3 separate regions of the Homo sapiens genome follow, and all the other regions are reported to be linked to region 3. The links are microRNA targets in miRTarBase. Many come from high-throughput screens and were not tested one by one. Region 3 holds a microRNA gene; each other region holds the end of a gene's coding sequence.
Evidence for each region. Region 3 holds the annotated microRNA hsa-miR-4279 (CUCUCCUCCCGGCUUC, at 1,118-1,133, opposite strand). A microRNA usually pairs through its seed, bases 2 to 8, with sites in the 3' UTR of a target mRNA and lowers its output. Matches are read on the target gene's strand: a 7mer-m8 pairs with bases 2 to 8, a 7mer-A1 pairs with bases 2 to 7 and ends in A, and an 8mer does both.

Region 1 (3,186 bases), not on the chromosome of region 3:
ATAGCTGCTCTTGCCTCTGGGAGTTTTTGGTTCTTTAGTACTCCTGAGGTAGAAACCACTGCTGTTCAAGAGTTCCAGAACCAGATGAATCAACTTAAGAATAAGTACCAAGGTCAAGATGAGAAGCTGTGGAAAAGGAGCCAAACATTCCTGGAAAAACATCTTAATAGCTCCCATCCTCGGTCTCAGCCTGCTATCTTACTGCTCACTGCTGCCCGAGATGCTGAAGAAGCACTTAGGTGTCTGAGTGAACAAATTGCTGATGCCTATTCTTCTTTTCGTAGTGTCCGTGCCATCCGGATTGATGGGACAGATAAAGCTACTCAAGACAGTGATACTGTCAAACTAGAGGTAGACCAAGAACTGAGCAATGGATTTAAGAATGGCCAGAATGCAGCTGTGGTACACCGCTTTGAGTCATTTCCCGCAGGCTCTACTTTGATCTTCTACAAATATTGTGACCATGAAAACGCGGCCTTCAAAGATGTAGCCTTAGTCCTGACTGTCTTATTGGAGGAAGAGACACTTGGAACAAGTCTAGGCCTAAAGGAAGTTGAAGAAAAAGTAAGAGATTTTCTTAAAGTCAAGTTCACCAATTCTAACACACCCAACTCCTACAATCATATGGACCCAGACAAACTGAATGGCCTCTGGAGCCGTATTTCTCACTTAGTTCTGCCTGTGCAACCTGAAAATGCCCTGAAAAGGGGCATCTGCTTATAAGAAGTGAGAGAGAAGAAAAATCATGTCCCAAGTTCTGAGAATTGTTCACACTTTCTAACCAGAGACAGAATTCAGAGCTCTTTTTGAAAGAACTAGTTTCTTTTTAAAGAAGTTAAGTGCTTACATAAACATGGAACATATAAATCATTCATTCAACCTAATTATCTGTGATATGAGAGAATCATTTCAGTTTCCATTGAGAGCTCTGTTAAAGGTATCTTAGGAGTGCAGATTATATGCAGTTCCTTAGAGAATCTGTTTTGATTCTGGGCTGAGTTATTACAGTTATGGTATGACCAGTGAGAGGGATTTGTGTCCTTTCTTATGAACCTTCCTGATTTTTTAACTTAGATTTCTCACTAAGTTTCCTGAGTTATTAGTAAGATTGCTCCCTAAATGTAACCAGGGATTTTCCCATTATGTTCCCTTTTATACCATTTAGGTGTGAGTTCCTTAGCTTCTGCCTATAGGAACATAAGTAATGAAAGGTCATCTAGGTGTGTGTTTGGAATTTTTTTCTTTTGTTTTTTGGAAAATGGAAAGAACAAGGCAAGGAAGGAAAATTAATGGGGAAGCTGAAGGGAGGAAATGTTACAGTAATCCACTGAGATGTAGTTTAGTCAAACATAGGTATATGAACTGTTAATCTTGGTGGATTCCGTTGGGATTTGTTTTTTACATCTCCTTTTTCCTTCCTTGAAGAAAAATTCTTGGCTGTCCCAAGGATTCTTCATGTATATTGCAAAATTTAATATATTTGTTCACTTGAGTCTTAAGAGTAGGTCAGGCCAAGGCAGGTGGATCACCTGAGGTCAGAAGTTCAAGACCAGCCTGGCCAACATGGTGAAACCCCGTCTCTACTAAAAATACAAAAATTAGCTGGGCGTGGTGGTGCATGCCTGAAATCCCAGCTACTTGGGAGGCTGAGGCAGGAGAATTGCTTGAACCCGGGAGGCGGAGGTTGCAGTAAGCCGAGACCATGCTTATTGCCCTCCAGTCTGGGCAACAAAAATGAAACTCCGTCTCAAAAAAAAAAAAGTAGGTCAATTCGTAACAGTTTATTTTGGACACACCCTGAAGCTTTTGTTTTGAATTAAGAAATGAGTTTCAGGAATTGACAAACCATTTGTTAACCAGCTGTCCTGGGCTATTGAAGAAGATTTCATTTTCCGCGCATCCACTTGTTGCAGTCCAAGTCCTCTAGTGCAACGCCATAGCAAATATAAAGATTTACTATGCACGTGATACATTTTATGGAGTGCCTCAAGCCAAGATAGTGAATTTATATGAAGGGTGTGAAATGTATTTCTTTACTACTATAGTAGTTTAGTTATAACTTTGCATCTATAATTGAGCTTTCTCATCTGTCAAATGCTATGGTTTTCTTAAAATGTTACAATTCTAGATCTATCCACCTTGTTTTTTTATTGTCTACAAACCATTAAATGTAAATATTGTTTTTAGAGTCAGTCATTGGCTTTGTCATTTACCCTTTGAGAGTTCCACAAGTGGTAGTAGAGTGGTTTAACGTCTTTCCTCTAGTACTACCAGTATTCATAAATGTATACCCCTTACTGTAATTTGTTCCTCTTAGAAGTCAGATCATCTGATTTATAGAGGATTATGAAAACCAGAGTTTTTGAAAAGGCTTATTTTATACATACGTATTATATAGAGAAACAAATGTTTTTATTAAATGTTTCATTGACCCAAGTAATTTAAAAGTAATATGTTACCTATGTCTTTCAGGAAAAATAATTATAGCAGCTGATCTGTAAATGACTTTAAAAGCTATTTTAGTAATTTAAATAAATTTACTTTCTTGGTTTATACTCTCTATGTGTTATAAACTTAATGATTTATCATCTTTAAAAAAAGAAATCCAAGTATTTTCCTTGAACAATTGTAGCAACTCTGGCTAGGAGAAACAAAAATCAAAGAACTGGAGCCATTTGCAAGTACATTGGTTAGAAGTGGAATAGCCGTAACTTTCCATTTTATCTCGGCACTTAGGGTTTTTAAAAATACAGTTAAGTTAGATATTCCTGACTTAGCAAAAGAATCTCCACAGCAGCTTTTCTTTTTTTTTTTTTTAAGTAGACATGGGATCTCGCTATATTGCCCAGGCTGTTTTTGAACTCTTGGCCTCAAGCAGTCCTCCTGCCTAAGCCTCCTAAGTAGCTGGGATTACAGGCATAAGTCACTACACCTGGCTTCTTAACCTTTTCTTTATCACCTCCCTGAAGAACTTTTTTAGATTTTTTTCTTAGTCACCCCTTCCCCATGATATTTCAACACCAGATATATACTATGTATCTGTTTATGGACTGTAAATGTTTTTTGCTTTATACAAAATAGAATTTTTTTTTGTCCCCAATGAACCAATTTTCACCCCCATTGAGAATGCATGCTCAAGAGCATCCACGTTTTAGATAATTGCTGCCTAAAATGTTCTATTTGCTA
Region 2 (3,186 bases), not on the chromosome of region 3:
TCAAATGATAGAACATTTATATGGAACCTCTTTAAGTGCTGGAAAACAAAGAATTCAACTACTAATGTAATAATTTTTAAAAATACATTCCCAAATAAGCAATAACTAATGTATTTATTATCTATTTTGAGTTTTTAATAAGGTAAAAATAAGTATGAAAGATTCCATATTTACTGTAATAAAAGCAATACACACATTTGTAGGCTTTTAGAAAATTTATTATGAATTCCGAGAAGTCTGCTCATCATATACCTCCCCCAGCCCCAAATAAAACAAACAACATGTTTGTACATAAAGCCTGGATTTACTTGGTACAAAATTTGAGTCTTTGAAAAAAATAGTTAATGGAAAATCTCAATAAAAATTCATTTTGAAAGTAACCAGTACTGTTCAGAAATAAGGAAGTCATGTTACTTGAGAAGTCAAACAGTTTTATTACAGAACTATGTGTATATATTTTGGGTTTAAAACTTGCCAATAGCTGTTTGAAAGGATAGCTCATAATTTATTCAAATAGATATTTTATTAATCAAATGTTTTTGGTTTATCAACATAACCAAATGTATAAAAAATGTTTTTAAATACAAGACATAACTATAAAGTCATGAGGCTGATTGACCTTTTAAACTAACATAATAAAATCTATATGGTCAAAATGAGTGGTGATGCTTTAAGGTAATGATTATGCGTCCCATCTAAGGATGCTGCAATGGCCTAGGGCAGTTTTGAAATGTCTCTTTGCAACTACCTTCAAAAGGATATGAGCTTCATAATTTAATCATTCATTTGATTTGGTCCCCAATATTATTCCAGTTCAATCATCATTTATATTCACCAGTCCTGGCGATTTTGAAAAATCTTATTAATCTTATTTGTCACTTATTAGCGTATTCAAAGGAATGTCAATTGAGGTTCTGATGGTAATTCTGAAATTTAAGCATTTACACACTTTTAAGATGTGTAAATTTTAGTAACTACTCACATTATAGACTTGTTTTTGGTATATGTCTATCATTTTGAAATAATGAGATTTTTCTTTTTTCTTTTTTTCTTTTTTTCTTTTTTTTTTTGAGACAGACTCTTGCTCTGTTGCCAGGCGGGAGTGCAGTGGCATGATTTTGGCTCACTGCAACCTCTGCCTCCCAGGTTCAAGCAATTCTCCTGCCTCAGCCTCCCAGGTAGCTGGGACTACAGGTGCATGCCACCATGCCCAACTAATTTTTTTGTATTTTTAGTAGAGACGGGGTATCACCATGTTGGCCAGGATGGTCTTGATCTCCTGACCTCATGATCCACCCGCCTTGGCCTCCCAAAGTGCTGGGATTACAGGGGTGAGCCACCATGCCCGGCCCAGAAATAATGAGATTTTTCAAAGCAACAGTGATTCATCACACTGAAATAGGACTCTACAGTTCAAAATGACAAGAATAACTTTATCCTGTGTTACATACCAATATTAGAGAAATCTTAAAAGTTTGTAGCTGTTAGTTTTTAGTTTATGCATGTAGTTCAGTAGCCCAAGTTGACAACTCCCCTGTCTCTCTACATGAATCACTGTAGTTGAAATTGTACTAAAGTATCAGAAGTAACATTTACTGTAAAATGTTAAATAGCACCAATATTACTTGAAAGTAAAGTGAGACATTAATAGGAATGCTGACACAGATTTAATTTCTAACTACTAGAGAGAAAGCATCTCCTAGACAAAATACTATTTAGATATGAATTATTTTAAGATCACAGCCAGAAAAATGTCATAAAACATTTTAGATTTTGCTTGGAAAAGTTAGAAAAGAAAGCTTTGTGTATCGCTCTTTTATCTTTTATTTCCAAAGAAGATGTACAAATGCTTACATAATCAGAACAGTGCAATCTTACCAATGAAGTTTACCTTGTGGGAGCTACATTTACTTATTTCATATATTAGTTCAACAACATAAATATAATAAAAATGCTTTTAAGCAATCTGATTAGAGCAACATTTATATTAACTACAAAATATACAGTAAAATGAAACATCTTGTTAAATAGGCCTGTAGGAAAACAATATTTTAAAGGAATACATTTTCATGAATCTACTTTCATATTTATTTGTTTTATTGTATCTTATAGTTACTATAATCGTTGTGTGCTTTTGTTACTGCAATTTCCAGGATCATTGTATATTCTCAGTATGCCAGTGACTATATATGTAAAGGTAATTTAAAAAGTATTACTCCCAGAGTAAAAACAGACAAACAAATAAGAAATCTCATTTTTAATGGGAAGTTGTGCATAAAACTATTGTAGTATTTTTATAGAAATGTCCCTTAATCATTATAAGTTCATCATTATAAAATGTATACTATTGTACTAAAGCAAAACTGTCTGCCTTTAAATCTAAGTGGTGTCAACTTACTGTATAATTCTGGTTACAAAGTTAGATATGAAATCTTTGGCTATTAATTAGAAAAGCATTATTTGAAAAGACCTGTCAATAAACATTTCTAAATGTGGTTGCTCATCTTAATAGTTTTCTTAATTAGAACAGCTAGGAAATGAACAGAACAGTGGTGCTTTTATGTTATAATAACAAAGAAGTATTACAGTATCCCAATCTCCAGACCTGGGGTCCAAGTATTCAATCCTGGCTCAGTTGCAGGCTGACAGAAGAGAAGCATCGTCCTACGCTCGTACACAATGGAGCAATGATAACATCTGTCACACTCTTCCATATTGTCTGCACTGAAGGCAGAACCATTAGGCAGGTCTTTACAAAAGGCATTAAAATCCTGGAAGGAAGGAAGAGAGATGTGTGAGGATTGTTGCTGTTACCAAATAAGGTCTGTCTTGTACATGTATGAAAAGATAAAATACTGACCCATTTACTTAAATTTGGTTGAGAGTTTGAAACAAATAAATGAACAATGATCACTGATAATGATTTGGGTTTTTTGTCCCCCTGACTCTCATTTTGAAATGTAGTCCCCAGTGTTGGAGGTGGGGCCGAGTGGGGATAATTGGATCACAGCGGGTAGATCCCTCATGAATGTCTTAGTGCCTGCCACCCTCTTGGTAACGTGAGTTCTCACTCAGTTAGTTTGCTTGAGATCTGATTAACTAAAAGAGTCTGGGACCTCCACATTCTCTCTCTTGCTCCCTTTCTTGCCATGTGACGTGCCTGCTCCTCCTTCTCCTTCCACTATA
Region 3 (3,186 bases):
GGAGAATCTCTTGAACCCGGAAGATGGAGGTTGCAGTGGGCCGAGATTACTCCACTGCACTCCCACCTGGGCAACAGAGCCAGACCCTGTCTCAAAAAAAAAAAAAGAAAGAAAATAGAATGGCTGCAAGAAGTAAACAGAGGATGTTTGCTCCTATTTTGTTCCTTACAAGTATAGCTAACAAAGGACCTTGTGAGTATTGGAATAATAAAATGTCATTCCCATTTAAGTTGCACATGTACATTTTTATACCTGCACCAAAGGTTTTTGGAATCTTTGTCTCTGGCTGTTGGATCATGAAAGACCCCTTTGGCTTCAGCTGTAAAACAAGGCAAATTTTACCCATAATAGAAACTACTATATATGTGTGTTGGTTTAGGGAAGCCTATTTTTTAACATTCTATTTCCTGATAAAACCTTAGAAAAATCATATTGTGTTTAAAAGTTGAGGATTTTTTCAGCAACTCAAGGGCTGACTGATAATTTCTGGTTTTGCTAGTACTTGTCTACAATGGAAGTTGGAAGCTTAGTCGGAGTAGAAAAGTTGTAAATTTGGTGTCATCAAGACAAATGGCTTTTATTTCCCAACAGACTTCTTTATAAAATAATTTAACCCCTTGATTTTTGTTTGCATTTGGATGCAATTTAAAAAAAAATCTGGCCCTTTAATAAGTGCAAGACAGATTAAATGTATTGTGAAATATCAGGTCACTGAGTGGAAAGTTTCTTCACTGATCATCCTAGCTTCACATTTTTAGTTATGTGAAGTACACATTTTGATAGTATTTTGGTTTTCTCCTGCCTGAAATCTTCAGTCCTCCTCCCTGGCAGTCTGTAGAATGAAGCAGCTGTGGTCCGTGGCCAAGTGTGCGTCCTTTGGTGATGGAAGAGCTGATCTGCAGATACCTGCAGGAGGAAGCCATGCATGATGTCTGCTGGGATATGATTTCCCCCCATACTCCTGGAAAATTAGAACCGTTTATAGCAGCCTGGTTCCAATACACTGGCAGGGCAAGGATTGGCTCCTTCTCTTACAAACACAGCGTGGCTGGATGCATTCATAAATGAAAAATGATCTGAGTGCTGTGGGTGGGTGGGGCTCTGGAGCTCAGGAGGTGAAGCCGGGAGGAGAGAGAGAGAATCTGCTCCTCAGCTCCACAGAGCATGGGGAGCTGGCAGGAAGTTGGAGCACGCATGGCGCAGCTTGTATTTTTGTTGATAGTTAATAACCCAGGACTTTAAAGACCTGAATGGAGAAGGGAAGTGAAGCACAACCAACTTTGGAGTCTGTCCCATTCCAGAGGCTGCTGAAGCACAGCAGAGCACGCTCACCTGACCAGCTCATAAAGCAGGTAGGACGGGAGACCTGAGTGGTGAAGAGAATCACATTTTCTCTCTGAACACAACTTACAGGTCTTCCAAGGGTTTATTATTTTTTAATTATATGAGAGATGAGCAGGTAATAATAACATAAAAGACTCAGCTTGAATTGTGCTGATATCTGCCCAAGCAAGAGTTCTCTCAGTTACTAGTGTGATGACCAAATGACAGTTTTATTCTGAGAGTTGCTTTAAAAAAAAAAAAAGAAAAAAAGCATGCAGCATTGAAGCTTTTTTAATTTAAACTCATTTAAAAATTGGCAGATGATAAATGAACTGCAGACACTGTGTTTTAGAACAAATACTTTGAAGGGAGTCAACCAGAAACCGATTTTCAGGCTTGACTGTGGCTCCATTTTCATATTTCAGAGCCAACGAGGTGCTCACTAATTTTTGCTGGCTTTTGTAAGAAAGGAGGTGGATGTATAACAGCTGTGAAATATCCAGAAATTGACTGGGATCCAGAGTGAAGCCCGAATGCACTAATGTTTTCTCCATTAAGGCAGGCTGCCTCTGCTCGGCTTCTAAGTCAAGGGATTGGAAAGCAGTGTGAAAGTGAAGTGTGAATCCTGAATATTTGTCATGGAGTGGGGGGAGTGCAGAGGGTTGGAAACTGTCACAGTGACGTTTCACACTCAGAAGTAGAAAATAAATGGGGAGGACCATGGGTGGCAGCCACATGCAAGGATAATTTTAAAACTGATTTTTGATTCCCATGATTGTAGCCGAGTCTCAGGGTGTTCCTTCCGTTGTCAAGGTTTGGGGCTTGTGATAAGAGAAGTAGAACAGAATAAAGATCATCTCCAGCCCCAGGTTCTGAATCATTTCTAGGCCTTGCTTCTCCTGGGCACTGGGATGATCTGACATGTTTTCCCTCACTAATGAAGTGGCCAGGGTGTTGGGGGATTGGGCTAACATGGAGGAGGTTGGATAGAAATGGTGCGTGTGGTCAGCCTGAGAAGAACGTCAGAGGTAGGTGGAGAATTTTGTTTCGGTAGAATAGCCCAGCCTGAATCCTGGAACTGTTTGCGTTGAGGTTTGGAGAATGCCCCGTAGCCACAGGGGTGTGTCTGAAAAGGCAAAATTGGGAGCTGCTTGGGTTACTGCTTACTGCCTGGCTGGCATCCTCATGCTGTGGTCATCCTCATGCCGTGGTGGCCACGTTTTGTGGCTTTGCATTTTAGTCCTGGAGGGCTGGGGGATGGCTGTGTTTAGTCAAGCAAGCCCACACATCATTGCTAGTCTCTCTTTCCGTGTGATTTCTCAGCATTACACAGCTAGCCTTCTATGGGAGGAGGAACGGCACCTCCTGTGGTCTTTTAGAAAACTTTTTCACCCCATGTTCCTACCGTCGCCACCCCAACTCTTGTCCTTTCTTGCCTACTGTTCACCTGTTGTGTGTGTCCCCTTTGTCTCCCATCCTTCAGACTGATCTGTCCCAGGTGCTATCTGCAGTGACTTAGAAGCTGTGTTGGGGACAGGTTCCTTCCCAGGGTTCCTGCTGGAAGCGGTGTTCAGCAAGCTATGGCCCTTAGGCAAATCCAGACTGCCCTAGCCTGTTTTTGTATGGCCTGGGAGCTAAGAATGTGTTTTATGTTTTGAAGAGTTGAAGAAACAAAGAAGAATATAGGACAGAGATAGTGACCCACAAAGCCTATCCGATCTTTAGAAAAAAACATTTGCTGGTTTGCTGGTTGGTCTGTTGATTTCCGCCCCCATTTAGAGACAGAGTTTCACTCTGTTGGCCAGATTGGTGTCAAACTTTTGACCTCAAGTGATCTGCCCACCTCGGCCTCCCAAAGTGCTA

Region 1: miRTarBase lists TOR1AIP1 as a target of hsa-miR-4279. Seed matches in the 3' UTR shown: 7mer-A1 at 1,654-1,660.
Region 2: the mRNA of CAV2 is a reported target of hsa-miR-4279. Seed matches in the 3' UTR shown: 7mer-A1 at 1,157-1,163.

The regions. Positions count from the first base shown.
Region 1 is chr1:179,917,517-179,920,702 of GRCh38, forward strand. TOR1AIP1 (torsin 1A interacting protein 1) reads left to right here. Exons shown (of 10, transcript NM_015602.4): 10 at 1-2,560. The coding sequence ends at 723. Among named protein-coding and RNA genes, the nearest start is that of CEP350, 36 kb to the right of the region's middle.
Region 2 is chr7:116,505,556-116,508,741 of GRCh38, reverse strand. It overlaps CAV2 (caveolin 2), which reads right to left. Exons shown (of 3, transcript NM_001233.5): 3 at 201-2,771. The coding sequence ends at 2,621. Among named protein-coding and RNA genes, the nearest start is that of CAV2, 7.4 kb to the right of the region's middle.
Region 3 is chr5:31,934,995-31,938,180 of GRCh38, forward strand. It overlaps MIR4279 (microRNA 4279), which reads right to left and starts at 1,165; the gene lies at 1,108-1,165. The region is part of intron 2 of PDZD2 (PDZ domain containing 2); the gene reads left to right.